Regions from separate parts of the Homo sapiens genome. Here all the other regions are linked to region 3. Evidence: fine-mapped expression QTL. A gene starts in region 3. Each other region holds a variant in brackets. All regions are shown on one strand. Distances are from middle to middle. Region 1 has its middle 9.5 kb from the start of LYPD3. Region 2 holds the start of LYPD3 (LY6/PLAUR domain containing 3). Region 3 holds the start of PHLDB3 (pleckstrin homology like domain family B member 3).

Region 1 (5,218 bases), 49 kb after region 3:
CCACGTCACTCAGCTATTAAGCAGTGGAGCTCGGATTTGAACACGGGCAGGTCAGCTTTACAGAGTGTACCAACACTGCCATAATGTTTCCCTCAGCTTGACTAAACTTTAGACAGGCTTCCTCCTGCCTCTAGGCCCTCAGAATCCAGAGGGTCTAACCACAGAGGCCCCTTACCTCCCTTTTCTTAGAGCATTTACTTGAGAAAACTTGTCATTGTAAATTATTTCTTTGTCCATTTGAGATGGATATAAACCTCTTTAAAAGTCTTGGCCGGGCGCGGTGGCTCACGCCCGTAATCCCAGTACTTTGGGAGGCCAAGGCGGGTGGATCACGAGGTCAGGAGTTCAAGACCAGCCTGACCAACATGTTGAAACCCCGTCTCTACTAAAAATACAGAAATTAGCCAGGTGTGGTGGCAAGTGCCTGTAATCCCAGCTACTCAGGAGGCTGAGGCATGAGAATCGCTTCAACCTGGGAGGCGGAGGTTGCAGCGAGCCAAGATCACGCCATTGCACTTCAGCCTGGGGGCGACAAAATGACACTCTGTCACAAAAAAAAAAAGAAAAAAAAAGTATCTTGCCAGTTGATAGCCCAGGAAATGGAGTCTCACTATGTTGCCCAGGCTGATCTTGAACTGGGGTCAAGCTATCTTCCTGCCTTGGCTTCTCAAAATGCTGGGATTACAGGGATGAGTGACCAGGACCCAGGAAACTATCTTTTTGAAATTGTAAACATAAAAGGAAATAGCACTCCTATCTCCCCCCAGGAAGGTGAGAGCCTAACTTTGGTACATGACTCAGCTCTCAGTTGTAAAATACCTCCTGTCATGAAGACAGAAGAAAGTTGCCTTCTCTTCTGGGTAAAGCCGATTAAAAATGCAAATGACCTACAATCGCCATTCACCCCAGCTCAAAATCCCTACCACTCAGCTGGGCGTGGTGGCTCATGCTTGTAATCCCAGCATTTTGGGAGGCTGAGGCAGGCGGATCCCTTGAGTCCAGGAATTTAAGACCATCCTGGGCAACCTCGTCTCTAAGAAAAATACATTAAAAATTAGCCAGGTGTGGTGGCACGTGCCTGTAGTCCCAGCTACTTGGGGATGCTGAGGTGGGAGGATCGCTTGAACCCTGGAGGCCGAGGTTGCAGTGAACCATGATGGTGCCACTGCACTCCAGCCTGGGTGACAAAGCAAGACACTGTCTCAAAAAAAAGAAATCTGGCTTCCAATGCTTTTTTTTGTTGTTGTTTGAGATGGAGTCTCACTCTGTTGCCCAGGCTGGAGTGCAGTGGCGTGATCTTGGCTCACTGCAACTTCTGCCTCCCAGGTTCAAGCAATTCTCCTGCCTCAGCCTCTCGAGTAGCTGGGACTACAGGTGCACACCACCACGCCCGGCTAATTTTTGTATTTTTAGTAGAGATGGGAATTCGCTATGTTGGCCAGGCTGGCAATATATTTACTTAGCGGATCCATCCCCCTGAAAGTAACCAATCTTTTGCAGCTGTCACTGTCCAGCCTTCCCATCTTCTTGGGAGGATGACCTCCTTATCCATCTTGGCCTCTGAAACCCATTATGGGCCCTGAGACTCCCGCTCCCCCACCGCAACCCCTCCAACCTCCTTCCAGACAGTTACTTGCTTGTGTTCAGGAGGAGAAGAGAAAAGAAGAGCTTAATGTGTTTCAAATATAATCAATTGTTTTGCTCATCTAGTTTCTACTTTTAAGCTCCTAGCTCTGCTTTCTGTTAAAAATACCAGATTCTGGCCAGGTGTGGTGGCTCATACCCATAATCGCAACATTTTGTGAGGCCGAGGCGGGTGGATCTCTTGAAGTCAGGAGTTTGAGACCAGTCTGGCCAATATGGCGAAACCCCATCTCTACTAAAAATGCAACAAAATCGGCTGGGCATGGTGGCTCACGCCTGTAATCACAGCACTTTGGGAAGTCGAGGCGGGCGGATCACCTTAGGTGAGGAGTTCGAGACCAGTCTGGCCAATATGGCGAAACCCCATCTCTACTAAAAATGCAACAAAATCGGCTGGGCATGGTGGCTCACGCCTGTAATCCCAGCACTTTGGGAGGTCGAGGCGGGCGGATCACCTTAGGTCAGGAGTTCAAGACCAGTCTGGCCAATATGGTAAAACCCTGTCTCTACTAAAAATACAAAAATTAGCTGGACGTGGTGGCGGACTCCTGTAGTCCCAGCTACTCAGGAGGCTGAGGCAGAAGAATCGTTTGAACCTGGGAGGCGGAGCTTGCAGTGAGCCAAGATTGTGCCATTGCACTCCAACTTGGGTGACAGAGTGAGACTCTGTCTCAAAAAAAAAAAAAAAAAATCAGCCAGGCTTGGTGGTGCGCGCCTACAATCCCAGCTACTTGGGAGGCTGAGGCAGGAGAATCACTTGAACCCGGAAGGCGGAGGCTGCAGTGAGCTGTGATTGTACCACTGCACTCCAGCCTGGGCGACAGAGTGAGACTCTGTCTCTCTCTCTTTCTCTCTCTCTCACACACAGACACACACACACACACACACACACACACACACACACACAGCCAGATTCTGTATAACTTATTAGACTGGACACGGCTTTAAAGTGTTTTTAATGACAGCTCACCAAAACAGAAGTGAGAGAAAGAAGAAAAAGGACGAGGAGAAAGAAAGGGAAGAGAGAGTGAGAGGGTTTAGCCGTACGAAAAGCCACAGAGGGGGAAAGTTACAAAATCTCTTTCCTGTATTTTTTCCAAGGTTTGATGTCTGAGGTCCATGTGTGAGAAATTGATTTCAGCCTCTTTTTCAGGGCTTGCTGGGGACAAGGCAGGTGTGACAAGGGGCAGGGTGGATCTGCCTGAACTGGCCTTGCTGGTTTCTCTTCTTCCTGGGTTTGTGTGTTTTTAACGAAGGGCTTGTTTAATTTTAATTACATAAGCAAGACATGACTATCTTCTTGCTGTCAAACATTAAAAAAATACAGAGACAGCAAGAGAGAGAGAGAGAGAGAG[T/AGT]GCTCAAAAAGCCCTTTTGAGAAATGGTTGGTCAATCAGTTGCAGGGGAGGGAAATTGGGGTGCAATTTGGAAACGTCTTTCTAAATGACAAATGCAGATCGCTTCTGACTTGGCAGGTTTTTCTCTCAGGAATTTATCTCACATGTAGACATGGACGCCTGAGGCTGATGTCAGGTCTGCTCCAGGATGTTAATTGCAGTAGTGTTTGGAATAACAAAACATTAGGAATAACCTAAATGTTTATCAGGAGGGAACTGGTTATGCTTATGATGGTGTGCTCACACAGTTTGATGCTTTATGGGCATTATAAAAATAAAATGAGCTAGGTGCAGTGGTTCACGCTTGTAATCCCAGCACTTTGGGAGGCCGAGGCGGGTGGATCACCTGAGGTCAGGAGTTCAAGACCATCCTGGCCAACATGGCGAAACCCCCTCTCTACTAAAAATACAAAAAGTAGCTGGGCGTGGTGGTGGGTGCCTGTAATCCCAGCTACTTGGGAGGCAAGGCAGGAGAATTGCTTGAACCCAGGAGGTGGAGGTTGCAGTGAGCCAAGATCACGCCACTGCACTCTAGCCTAGGTGACAGAGTGAGACTCTGTCTCAAAAATAAATTAATTAAATAAAATAAATAAAACCAGGCACATCTATTTGTATTAATGTGGAAAGATCTTGAAAATAATGTTAAGTAAAATGAAAGATAAGATACAGAACAGTGTACCACTATTGTGTAAAAAAAAAAATCTGTGTGTAAATGCTTGTATATGCCTAGAACATGTCAAGAAATACCCACAAGGCAATAAATACCATTGCCTCTGGAAAGGGAATTGGGTGGCCATGGGATGGGGGTGGGAGGAAACTTTTCCATCCTTCCCCTCTGTGTGATGTTGGATGAGTCACATGTCTCCTCTGAGCCTCAGTTTCCCCATTTGGAAAGGGAGGGTCATAAAATGAGAGACTAGAGTTCTCCTTCCAGAGCCTGGCACACTGGAGATGCTTGTTGAAGAGAGGCTCTCCTGGCCGGGCACGGTGGCTCACACCTGTAATTCTAGCACTTTGGGAGGCCGAGGTGGGAGGATAGCTTGAGCCCAGGAGTTCTAGACCAGTCTGGACAACATGGTGAAACCTCGTCTCTAAAAAAAGTACAAAAGTTAGCCAGGCGTGTGGTGGCACGCGCCTGTAATCCCAGCTACTCAGGAGGCTGGGGTGGGAGGATCGCTTGATCCCCGGGAGGTTGAGGCTGCAGTGAGCTCTGATCATGACATTGCACTCCAGCCTGGGTGACAGAGCAAGACCTTGTCTCAGAAACAAAACAAAACAAAAAACCCCACAAAAACCAAACCAAACCAAACAAACAAAAAACAAGAACAAAGAGAGGCCCTCCTCCTACATCCATTCTCCTGGTCTGGGACTTCACAGGGAACTCACCCCAACTTTCTGCTTTTCCAGTGATGAAGAATCCAGTAGCAGTGACAGCCACTAGTCTATAGCCCATAGTGCAAGGGGATTTTTCCAACTCCCTGGCAATCTGGGGCAAGAAAGAGGAAAATCTTTTCCCACATCTCTTCACTTCCACCCACACCGTCGTTCTTGGGACCAACTGTGGGTTTTCCCTTCAGTATTCTCAAGAATCACTAGCATTCTCTCTTTACTGAGACCTCTGGGGGGAGTAGGATTGGACCACCAAGGGCTCACACTCACCCAGCCCAAGGAATGACCATGTAGGAACCCATCTCTGCTCTCCTTGCAAGGAGCCCGATGGCTGGGGTTCAAATCCCTGCTCCTGCTCTAGCTCGTGACTTTGGACAAGCCCCATCATCTTTCTGTGCCTCAGTTTTCTCATCTATAAAATGGCAATGGCTGGGTGTGGTGGCTCACACCTGTAATCCCAGCACTTTGGGAGGCTGAGGCAGTTGGATCACTTGAGGTCAGGAGTTCGAGACCAGCCTGCCCAACATGGTGAAACCCGGTCTCTACTAAAATACAAAAATTAGCCAGGCGCGGTGGTGTGCACCTGTAATCCCAGCTACTTGGAAGGCTGAGGCAGGAGAATTGCTTGAACCTGGGAGGCAGAGATTGCAATGAGTCAAGATTGCACCATTGCACTCCAGCCTGGGTGACAAGAGCGAGACTCCGTCTCAAAAATAACTAAATTAAAAAATGTGGTTGCTAGAAAAAAAATTTTTTTTTGAGACATGTTCTCGTTCTGTCACCCAGGCTGG
Region 2 (5,218 bases), 40 kb after region 3:
GTTGGTTTCCTGGCCTTCTCTCTCACCCCTTCTAGAGTCATTTTCCTTTTTTACACAGAGTCCACAGTGACATTCTTTACCTTGTTTTTATTGAAGAATAACATACGTCCAGTGACAGGCCTGAGTCAGTGATTCTCAACGTATCTGTACACACATGCAGCTGTCACCTAGATGAAGATCGTGGGGGCTCCTCCCTGTTGCTCCTTCTGGGGCCATGCCCTCCCAAAGGTAACATGTGTTCTGATTTCTATCACCACTGGTTAGTTTTGTCTGTTCTGAAACTTCATATATATTCAGTTACACAGTATGTTTTGTTTGTTTGTTTAAGGCTTTCTAAACTCAACACCAAGTTTTTTCTTTTTTTAAAATAAAATGAGATGGGATCTCACTATGTTGCACAGCCTGGTCTCAAAACCCCTGGGTTCAAGTGATCCTCCCACCTTGGTGTCTCAAAGTGCTGGGATTACAGGTGTGAGCCACTGTGCCTGGCCCCAACACAAAGTTTTTGAGATATGTTGCTGCATATATCAGGTGTTGGATCTTTTCTATTGCTGTGTAGTATTCCATTGGCCGAACCAACCACTCTCTTTTGCCATTCACTTCTTTTTCTTTTTCCTTTTTTAAAATCATATATCCTACTCTCAGATCCATTTACTTTTTTTTAATTTTTAAATTTTTAAATTTTTTTTTTTGAGACAGGGTCTCACTCTGTTGCCCAGGCTGGAGTGCAGTGGCGTGATCTCAGCTCACTGCAACCTCCACCTCCTGGGCTCAAGTGATTCTCCTGCCCTACCCTTCCGAGTAGCTGGGACAGCAGGTGCACGCCACTGCACCTGGCTAATTTTTTTAAATTTATTATTTTTTTTTAATAGAGATGAGGTTTCGCCATGTTGCCCAGGCTGGTCTCAAACTCCTGATCTCAAGTGATCCACCCAGCTCGGCCTCCCAAATTGCTGGGATTACAGGCATGAGCCACCGCGCCCGGCCTCCATTTACTTCTTGATGGCTAGCTGCACTATTTCTCAGGTTGATCATATTAGGAAGCAAATCTATTATGTCCTCCAGCTCATTTAGACCCTCTTAAAGGTTCTCTACTATTCTCAAAATTAATCCAAATCTCTTGTCGGGGCCTCTGATGCCCTGAGTGTCTCGGCCTCTGCCTGACTCTTTCATCTCAGTTCCTGCCCTTCTCTCATGGACTTCTGAGCTCAGGAGCACTGCTCTCCTTTCCATGTTTGAATGGTCCATCCTACCTCCTACCTCCAGGTGCTCCCACGTGCTGTTCCCTCTGCTTGTAAAGGGCTGTGTCCCTCTCTTGACCTGCTCTAGCTGGCTACATCCTGCATGCCCTTGAGGTTGCATCTCAGATAACCTCAAGGAAGCCCTCACCGACCAGCCCCCACTTCTAGACTGCACATCTCCTTGTATCACTACACTTTTTCCTTCAGTGTCTTAGTCTCTTTGGTAAACACCAATTTGTACGATTATTTGATTAGCATCTGTCTCCCCCATCAGACTGTGAGCTCTGCCAGGACAGGCACTGGTTCTGTCTTCATCTCCAGCATTACCTAGACCAAAGCCGGGCACACTGTAGATGCTCATTTAACAGTTACCGAACACTGAATGTCGAGTAGCCCCAGCCTGTCTTTAAGCCCCACTACTCTCCCACTCCAAACACACACAGACTTTCTCCCGCGAGCTGTCAGGGAACCTCAGCTCCCACCCTTTCCCTCCTTGGCAACTTCACAGGGCAGGGACCGCTCTCCCTTGGATGACGCGCCTAGGGGCGGGGCCCCGCCCCACAGCCGACGCTGAGTTGGCCCGGTTGGGCAAGGCTGGGGTTGCCTGGGGCGAGGTTACTCATCCTGGGCTCAGGTAAGAGGGCCCGAGCTCGGAGGCGGCACATCCAGGGGGGACGCCAAGGGAGCAGGACGGAGCCATGGACCCCGCCAGGAAAGCAGGTGCCCAGGCCATGATCTGGACTGCAGGCTGGCTGCTGCTGCTGCTGCTTCGCGGAGGTGGGTCTGCTGCCCGGAGAGGTGGAGGGGGTAGAGTGGGGGCTCTTAGGGAGGAGGCTCCTCTGGCCCCGTACAGAGAAGGCTGTGGGAAGGATCCCCACATAAGCAGAGGGCACTGTGGGCAAAGTTCCCCCATCCTAAGCAAGGGAGGCAGAGGGAAGGGTCCTCCACCATGGGCCGTAGGAAGGGTTCCCCACCACGGACAAGGGGAGCTGTGGGCAAAATTTTCCTATCCTGAAGCTGCAGAAAGAAGTCCCCTGTTCCTAGGCCGGGCGCGGTGGTTCATGCCTGTAATCTCAGCACTTTGGGAGGCCGAGGCAGGCGGATCATGAGGTCAAACGATCGAGACCAGCCTGGCCAACATGGTGAAACCCTGTCTCTACTAAAAATACAAAAATTAGCTGGGCGCGGTAGCGCGAGCCTGTAGTCCCAGCTACTCGGGAGGCTGAGGCAGGAGAATCGTTTGAATCCAGGAGGGGAGGTTGCAGTGAGCCGAGATTGCGCCACTGCACTCCAGCCTGGCGACAGAGCGAGACTCCGTCTCAAAAAAAAAAAAAA[GAA/A]AAAAAGAAAAAAAGAAAAAAGTGTTCCCTGTCCTGGGCAGAGAAGCTGTGGGTAGTGTTCTCTCATTTGAGCAGAAGGGGGCTGTGGGAAGGGATCCCTCACTGAGCACAGTCTACTGTGGGAAAAGTTCTCCCACACACTGTGGGAAAAGTTCTCTCATTCTGAGCAGAAAACCGTGAGGAGGTATCCTTCCTACCCCGGGATGAGGGGCTTCATGGCGGGGATCGCCTACAGTGGGCATACAGGGCTGTCGGAAGGATGTGCCCACAGTTGGCATAGTGGGTGTGAAGGAAAAGGGTCCAGTGATTCCCGTGCTTCCAGATTTGTGGAAAGCTTTTCCCTACTCCTGCCCTGGAAAAGTGTGTGCAATAAGACTGTCTAATCCCGGGACAGAGGGCATGGGAAGGACTATTTCTCCTTGGGGGTGGACGCTTTAGCAAGGAGGGCTCAGGTCTATTCGGCTCCGCTCCCCCAGGAGCGCAGGCCCTGGAGTGCTACAGCTGCGTGCAGAAAGCAGATGACGGATGCTCCCCGAACAAGATGAAGACAGTGAAGTGCGCGCCGGGCGTGGACGTCTGCACCGAGGCCGTGGGGGCGGTGGAGACCAGTGAGTGGGGACCCCCGGGCCACGCACACCACTGCAGGCTCCTCCGGCCCAGCCCCGCCTCCTTATAGTCCTTTCTGGATCTGGCCACGCCCCTTTAACGCGGCCCCACCCCTCCCTTTCAGCCTGGCCGGGACCCTACGACACAGCCTTGCAGGCCAGGCCTTCTCTATTAACAATTACAAGCGCGAGGAGCAGAGAGTTGAGAACTGGGTGGGGCGGACGGGGAGAGCTCGGGTTTGGAACGAGGTCACGTCCTATGCACTTTTTCTGCTCCACCAATGAGACCTCCCCATCCCTGCCTGTCAACCAGGCTGTCTCCTCCGACTCAGCTCTTTGAGGTTCCGCCCCCGTTCCGTGACCCCGCTCCTCCCTGCTTCGGTCGTTCTTTCCGCTCTGAGCGGCTCTTTGGGGGCGTCCATCCGCCAATTCCTGCCTGTCGGTCCTGTGGTGTTGGCCTATTTGAGGCCCCGCCCCTCCCAGACCCTACCCAACTCTGGGCCACGCCCCATCTGAGACCACGCCCACAGCTAATCCCGCCCTTGTCCCTCTCCCTAGTCCACGGACAATTCTCGCTGGCAGTGCGGGGTTGCGGTTCGGGACTCCCCGGCAAGAATGACCGCGGCCTGGATCTTCACGGGCTTCTGGCGTTCATCCAGCTGCAGCAATGCGCTCAGGATCGCTGCAACGCCAAGCTCAACCTCACCTCGCGGGCGCTCGACCCGGCAGGTCCGTGGGGGCCGGGCCGTAGCTGCGGGGGCGGAGCCACATTCGGGCCTGCCAAGATAGAGGTGGAGCCGTGGCAGAGGCGGGAGTACTCGACCTGGGCTGGGGGTGGGGTCACACTCTGGGGCGGGGCCAAGAGGCAGCAGGAGGGACTTTCTGGCTGTAGGCGCCGCGAGGTTGCGCGCTGGGGCGGGGCTACTAGTAGGCGGGGTCATCGATAGTGCCGGGGCCAGGCCTTAGGGGCGGGGCTAGAGGACGAGCTGCGGTTCCCGAACCCTTTCGACACCTTTTCTTCCTCTCGGCTCCCCTCGCAGGTAATGAGAGTGCATACCCGCCCAACGGCGTGGAGTGCTACAGCTGTGTGGGCCTGAGCCGGGAGGCGTGCCAGGGTACATCGCCGCCGGTCGTGAGCTGCTACAACGCCAGCGATCATGTCTACAAGGGCTGCTTCGACGGCAACGTCACCTTGACGGCAGGTGAGGGAGCCCCGGAGCACGGGACCTACGGGAGTTGTGGTAGCCCTTCTGAAGCACCCTGGGCGGTAGGGAGCCCTTTACCCAAAGCGTTTCCTTAACCTGCGACGCATTCTGGGAATCGTGGGGCCTAGGTGCTTGTATCGTAGGGCATCATGGAAAATGCAGTCCCTTCCCCCAACATATTAATAGTGTGGGGATAGTGATGCTTTGTCCCAGAGTGTTTTGGAGGGAAATGCATTTCCATAGAGGGCTGCCAGGTACTTAAGAGGTATTTAAGCCTCTAAGCTTCTGCCCAGGCACTGCGGGGAATCTCTAGTTCTTAGCCCTTAAAACTCAAGGGGTCCCCCGCCTGTCCCAGACTATTGAGAAATGTAACCATGGAAAATGAAGTTCTTCAAATCCCATCCCCTGCCAGTTATGCTATGGAAGATGTAGTTCTTTTTTATTTTATTATTACTATTTTTTTTTAAAGACAGCATCTTGCTCTATCGCCTAGCCTGGAGTGTAGTGGCGCAATCATAGCTCACTGCAGCCTCTACCTCTTGGGCTCAAGCAGTCCTCCCGCCTCAGCCTCCCAAGTAGCTGGGACTACAGGGTGCACCGCCACGACTGGTTCCTTTTATTTTTGGTAACAGTGGGGTCTTGCCATGTTACCCAGGCTGGTATTGAACTCTTGGGCTAAGAGATCCCCCTGCCTAGGTCTCCCAGAGTGCTGGGATTACAGCCGTGAACCACTGAGCCTGGTGTGGAGATGTAACTCTGACTCTAAGAGTAAATTCTGATGGGGAGGTAAAAGCCAGGGTGAAGGCTAAGGGGATAATGGTGAGAGGGTT
Region 3 (5,211 bases):
ACTCCTGGGTCTGAGGGAGGAGAGGCTGGGGGCCTGGACTCCTGGGTCTAAGGGAGGAGGGGCTGGGGGACTGGACTCCTGGGTCTGAGGCAGTAGGGGCTGGGGGCCTGGACTCCTGGCTCTGAGGGAGTAGGGGCTGGGCTGGGGGCCTGGGCTCCTGAGTCTGAGGGAGGAGGGGCTGGGGGCCTGGGGTCCTGGGTCTGAGGGAGGAGGAGCTGGGGGCCTGGACTCCTGGGTCTGAAGGAGGAGGGGCTGGGCTGGGGGCCTGGGCTCCTGGGTCTGAGGGAGGAAGAACTGGGGGCCTGGACTCCTGGGTCTGAGGGAGGAGGAACTGGGGGCCTGGACTCCTGGATCTGAGGGAGGAGGGACTGGGGACCTGGGCTCCTGGGTCTGAGGGAGGAGGGACTGGGGGAGGAGGAGCTGGGGGCCTGGACTCCTGGGTCTGAGGGAGGAGGGACTGGGGACCTGGGCTCCTGGGTCTGAGGGAGGAGGGGCTGGGGGCCTGGACTCCTGGGTCTGAGGGAGGAGGGGCTGGGGGTCTGAACTCCTGAGTCTGAGGGAGGAGGGGCTGGGGGACTGGACTCCTGGGTCTGAGGGAGGAGGGGCTGGGGGACTGGACTCCTGGGTCTGAGGAAGGAAGGGCTGGGGGACTGGACTCCTGGGTCTGAGGGAGGAGGGGCTGGGGGTCTGGGCTCCTGGGTCTGAGGGAAGAGGGGCTGGGGGTCTGGACTCCTGGGTCTGAGGGAGGAGGGGCTGGGGTACTGGACTCCTGGGTCTGAGGGAAGGAGTGGGCTCAGGACCAAAACTCTAGTTTCCTGAAGAGGAAAGGTTCCTAGGATTTCTGGGTCTCCAGTGGGGCCTGGAACTCTACCTAGGCCCCTTAGTTTTAACCTTGATTTCTTCCTTTCAGACTTTGCTGTTCCAGCCAACATGCGCTGTGGGGTGCAGACACCCACTGCCTGATCTCACTTCTGTCAGATGCTCCCATCCACTATTAATGCACTAGGTGGGAGGAGAGGGCGGCAATGACACTGCACCTCTCCTTTCCCACCGCATTCCCTGGAGCTCCCTAAATAAAACTTTTTTTAACGTGAGTCTGACTTCTACCTATTTTCTGGGGGAACCAATTGGGTTTCTGGGCCGAAAGGGGTGGGGTTCTGGTCCTATGGAGAGGCCAGGGAGCCTGCAAGATTTGTTTTCTTTTTCTTTTCTTTTTTTTTTTGAGATGGAGTCTCCCTCCATTGCCCAGGCTGGAGTGCAGTGGCACGATCTCGGCTCACTGCAACCTCTGCCTCCCGGGTTCAAGCGATTCTCCTGCATCAGCTTCCCAAGTAGCTGGGACTACAGGCGCGTGCCACCATGCCCGGCTAATTTTTTCATATTTTTAGTAGAGACAGGGTTTGACCATGTTAGCCAATATGATCTTGATCTCCTGACCTCGTGATCCACCAGCCTCGGCCTCCCAAAGTGCTGGGATTACAGGTGTGAGCCACCGCGCCCAGCCCGGGAGCCCACAAGATTTCTAACTCACAAGATCAAAAACAAACACAGCTATCTGGGGCAGGTCTTCTCATCACCTTGGATTAGAACACCGGCTTGCTTTTGAGCCACTTCCCACTTAGCCCTGGGGTAAGTTACTTCACTTCTCTAGGCCTCAGTTTTCTTATCTCTAAAATGGAAGGAATAATAATGGGGTGTTGTGATGCTCTGATGAGTCAATGTGTGTGAGTGCCTGGCACATGGCCTATCAGTGTTCACCATTAAAGTTACTATCATTTAGAATGATCTTTTGGGTACTTCCTGGCTTGTAGTGACAGTATACGCAATGGTTAAGAACATGGACTTTTGAGAGAATGAAGCCTGCATTTTACCACTTACAACATGTGTAGATGTTGGCTACATTTTTTTTTTTTTTTCTGAGATGGGGTCTTACTCTGTCGCCCAGGCTGGAGTGCAGTGGCACATTCAAGACTCACTGCAGCCTCGACCTCCTGGGCTCGAGATATCCTCCTGCCTCAGCCTCTGGAGTAGCTGAGATGACAGGTGTGTGCCACCACGCCTGGCATAATTTTTGTATTTTTAGTAGAGATGGGGTTTCTCCATGTTGCCCAGGCTGGCCTTGAACTCCTGATCTCAAGCAATCCACCTGCCTCGGCTTCCCAAAGTGCTGGGATTACAGGCCTGAGCCTCTGTGCCCAGCCAACCTTGGGTGCATTTGTCCTCCTCAGCTTGTATCCCCAAGTGTAAAATGGAGATAGTAGGCCAGGAGCGGTGGCTCACGCCTGTAATCTCAACACTTTGGGAGGCTGAGGCAGGCAGGTTGTTTGAGCCCAGGAGTTCAAGATCAGCCTGGGCAACCTGGAGAAACCCAGTCTCTACTAAAAAAAAAGAAATGGAGGTAGTAATCACTTTCTCGCTGGACAGCTTTGAGGGTGAAATTAAATGACTGGGTATAAAGTGTTTCACACAGCTCTTGACTTCTAATCATCCCTTTTCATATACCAGTTATTTTCCTGTTTTCATTTTCCTGTTTTCGCCCAGAGAGGAAAGGGTCTGGCTGAGACCTTTAACCTCTGCCCTCCACCCCATAGCAAAGTTGTGGGGGGGTGGCGGTACACTTCCCTCAGTCTCTGGGCAGGTGTCTGACTCAGTTCAGGGCACCCCTTCCCCTTGTCCAGCTCCCCAAACCGGTCAGGGCCCTTCTGAAGGGCTCATTAGAGGGGAGACGTCCCCATCTCCATTCCTGCCTTCCTTTCTGAACTCCCAAGGTCTGGACATTAGAGAGGCTCCCATACAGAGGTGGCCAAGACTCCTCCAGGGGGGCAGGAATGAGGGGCTCGAGGGAGACTGGGAGGTCGCGATGCTGAGTTCCACGAGGGTGGGGCCGGGCCGGGGCCGGTGGGGCCGGGATGGCCGGATGCCGAGGCCACGGGTGGGGCAAGCCCGTGGCTCCCTCCTCCCTCGGGAGCTGTTGGACCTGTTGTCCCCCCTCCACTTCCGGGCTGCTGGGGAGGGGGACCGGGCGGCCTCTCTCCTCCCTCTTCCCCTGCCACCTGTCTCATAGGCAGAAGCGGCCGTGCCCAGCGCGCAGAGCGGAGCGCGCCGAAGCCTGAGCTCGTGAGGGGGCCGAGGCTGTGGGGAGGTGGCAGTTGGACTTCGGAATCTCAAGGACTCCGACTCCTGGCTTGTTCAGAGAAGGAGAGCCCCGACTCCTGGATCCCTGGGTGAGGCGGCGTGGGCACGGTTGCCCTGCACAGTGGGGTCGGGACTAAGACTACGGGGCTCCGGGAAGGATGGGGCGGGAGCCGAACTGCTGAGTCTCGGAGGGAGAAGATGGGTCGCTCTAAGCGAATCCAAGAGATTGTAGGGGGCTGCTGGGAGGGTACAAGGCCTGACACCTAGAGATGAGGGAGGGGAGGCGGGGTCGAAGAGGTCAGTAGGGGGCGTGCTACGACCCGGACTCAAATTCCGGTCCCGTCTCCGGTGGCGTGTCGCCTTGGAGCCATCAAGCCCCGCCTCTGGAAACTTCAGGACACGCCTCCGTAACGCTCAGTTCCATCCTTTGAACTCTTAGGCCCCGCCTCCTTGGGGGGGGGTCTCCGCGCCCCGGAGCAGACGCGAGCGGCGCTCAGCCGTCCTAGGCCCCGCCCCCGGAGCTTCTGGTCCCGCCCACCCCGCAGGAGTCCCAGCGGCCATGGGGACGCGAAGCAGCCCCGAGGAGGGGACCCCGCCGCCGCTGGTCCCGGAATGCGACGTGGAGGTCCAGCCCCAGGGCCATCCCGAGGAGTCCCGGGAACAGGAGGCATCCGAAGTCCTGGCGGAACCTTCGAGCCGCGGGGGAGCTGAGCAGCAGGCAGAGGAAGAAGAAGTGGGAGAAGGCAGCAGCACTGAGAGCAGCCGCGACGCGGTGAGGGGCCCGAGGGCGACAGCGCGGGGGGCTTGGACCGACGGGGACCCAAACAGGTGGCCAGACAGGTAGACAGGTAGAGGGAAACCAGAAAGACAGAGACCCGGAGACAGGGAGAGAGACCGAGTGATAGCAGAGACTACTGAGAGAGAGATACACCAGGACACGGAGCCAGAGAGGCAGAGGCACAGACAGACAGAAACCAGATACAGAGACAGAAACCAGATAGAGCCACGGGGAGGCCCCAAGAACGGAGATAGACCCAAACGGGCGACAGAGACAGAGAGACTAGTATAGAGGAACCAGATAGGTGGCTCACGCCTGTAATCCCAGCACTTGGGGAGGCCGAGGGGAGGATTGCTTAAGCCCAGGAGTTCGAGACAAGTCTGGGCAACATAGCAAATCCCTGTCTCTAGAGAAAAAAAAAATACAAAAATTGTCCAAGCGCAGTGCCGCGTGCCTGTAATCCCAGCTACTCGGGAGGCTGAGGCAGGAGGATCGCTTGAGCCCAGGAGTTGTAGGCTGCGGTGAACTATGACTGCGCCACTGCACCCCAGCCTGGGACAAAGCAGAACCTATCTCTAAAAATGAGAGAGAGAGAGAGAGAGAGAGAGAGAGAGAGAGACCAGATAGACAGACAGGAGAGACTACAGAACAGAGAGAACCAAACGAGTAAGAGATGCAGAGAGATCAAGAAGCCAGACAGAGACCCAGAGACATGGAGACTGAGAGACAAAGACCCCAAAAAGACAGAGACACAGTGAGACTAGAGTCAGAGAGAGGGGAATCGAGACAGAGGGAAACCCAGAAATAAATGGCAGAGATGCTCAGAGAAACAAATAGACAAAAACCTCGAGAGAGGGACATACTCCGAGGAAGAAAGATCTAGTGATTCTAGTGGACAGATCTAGTGGACAGATACCGAATCTGAGAGACTGGGGTCAGGTGGAGAGACAGAGACAGATCCAGGCACTACAAGAAAGTGACGCCAAGAGAATAGGACCTGATAGAGAAAAAGAAACACCTTTCATAAGTCGGCTTTACACCTGCTCACCCTCCATACGGTACTGCAAGCCTCTGTGGTCCGTGTGGTTGGGTGGTCACGGGACTTGCACCCTCCCCCACTCCGACCTTAAATACAGGGGTCTGAGGCCGGGCGCGGTGGCTTATGCCTGTAATCGTAGCACTTTGGGAGGCCGAGGTGGGAGAATCCCTTGAGCCTAGGAGTTTGAGACCAGCCTGGGCAACATAGCATCGCCCCCTCTCTGCCAAAAAAAAAAAAAAAAAAAAAGAGCTTGGCGTGG

The links.
Region 1: its variant is fine-mapped to the expression of PHLDB3 in whole blood (INTERVAL, PIP above 0.99).
Region 2: its variant is fine-mapped to the expression of PHLDB3 in monocytes after LPS (Fairfax 2014, PIP 0.95).

The regions. Positions count from the first base shown.
Region 1 is chr19:43,453,481-43,458,698 of GRCh38, reverse strand. No RefSeq gene overlaps it. Among named protein-coding and RNA genes, the nearest start is that of LYPD3, 9.5 kb to the left of the region's middle. The variant T/AGT (reference allele first, on the strand shown) is at 3,000.
Region 2 is chr19:43,462,293-43,467,510 of GRCh38, reverse strand. It overlaps LYPD3 (LY6/PLAUR domain containing 3), which reads left to right and starts at 1,903. Exons shown (of 5, transcript NM_014400.3): 1 at 1,903-2,018; 2 at 3,055-3,186; 3 at 3,742-3,912; 4 at 4,224-4,385. The coding sequence starts at 1,940. RefSeq lists enhancers at 3,151-3,682, 4,235-4,284, 4,315-4,374 and a silencer at 3,925-4,084. The variant GAA/A (reference allele first, on the strand shown) is at 2,577.
Region 3 is chr19:43,502,602-43,507,812 of GRCh38, reverse strand. PHLDB3 (pleckstrin homology like domain family B member 3) reads left to right here and starts at 3,067. Exons shown (of 16, transcript NM_198850.4): 1 at 3,067-3,224; 2 at 3,681-3,907. The coding sequence starts at 3,695. It overlaps ETHE1 (ETHE1 persulfide dioxygenase), which reads left to right. Exons shown (of 7, transcript NM_014297.5): 7 at 911-1,094. The coding sequence ends at 963. RefSeq lists silencers at 2,871-2,930, 3,531-3,780 and an enhancer at 3,409-3,931.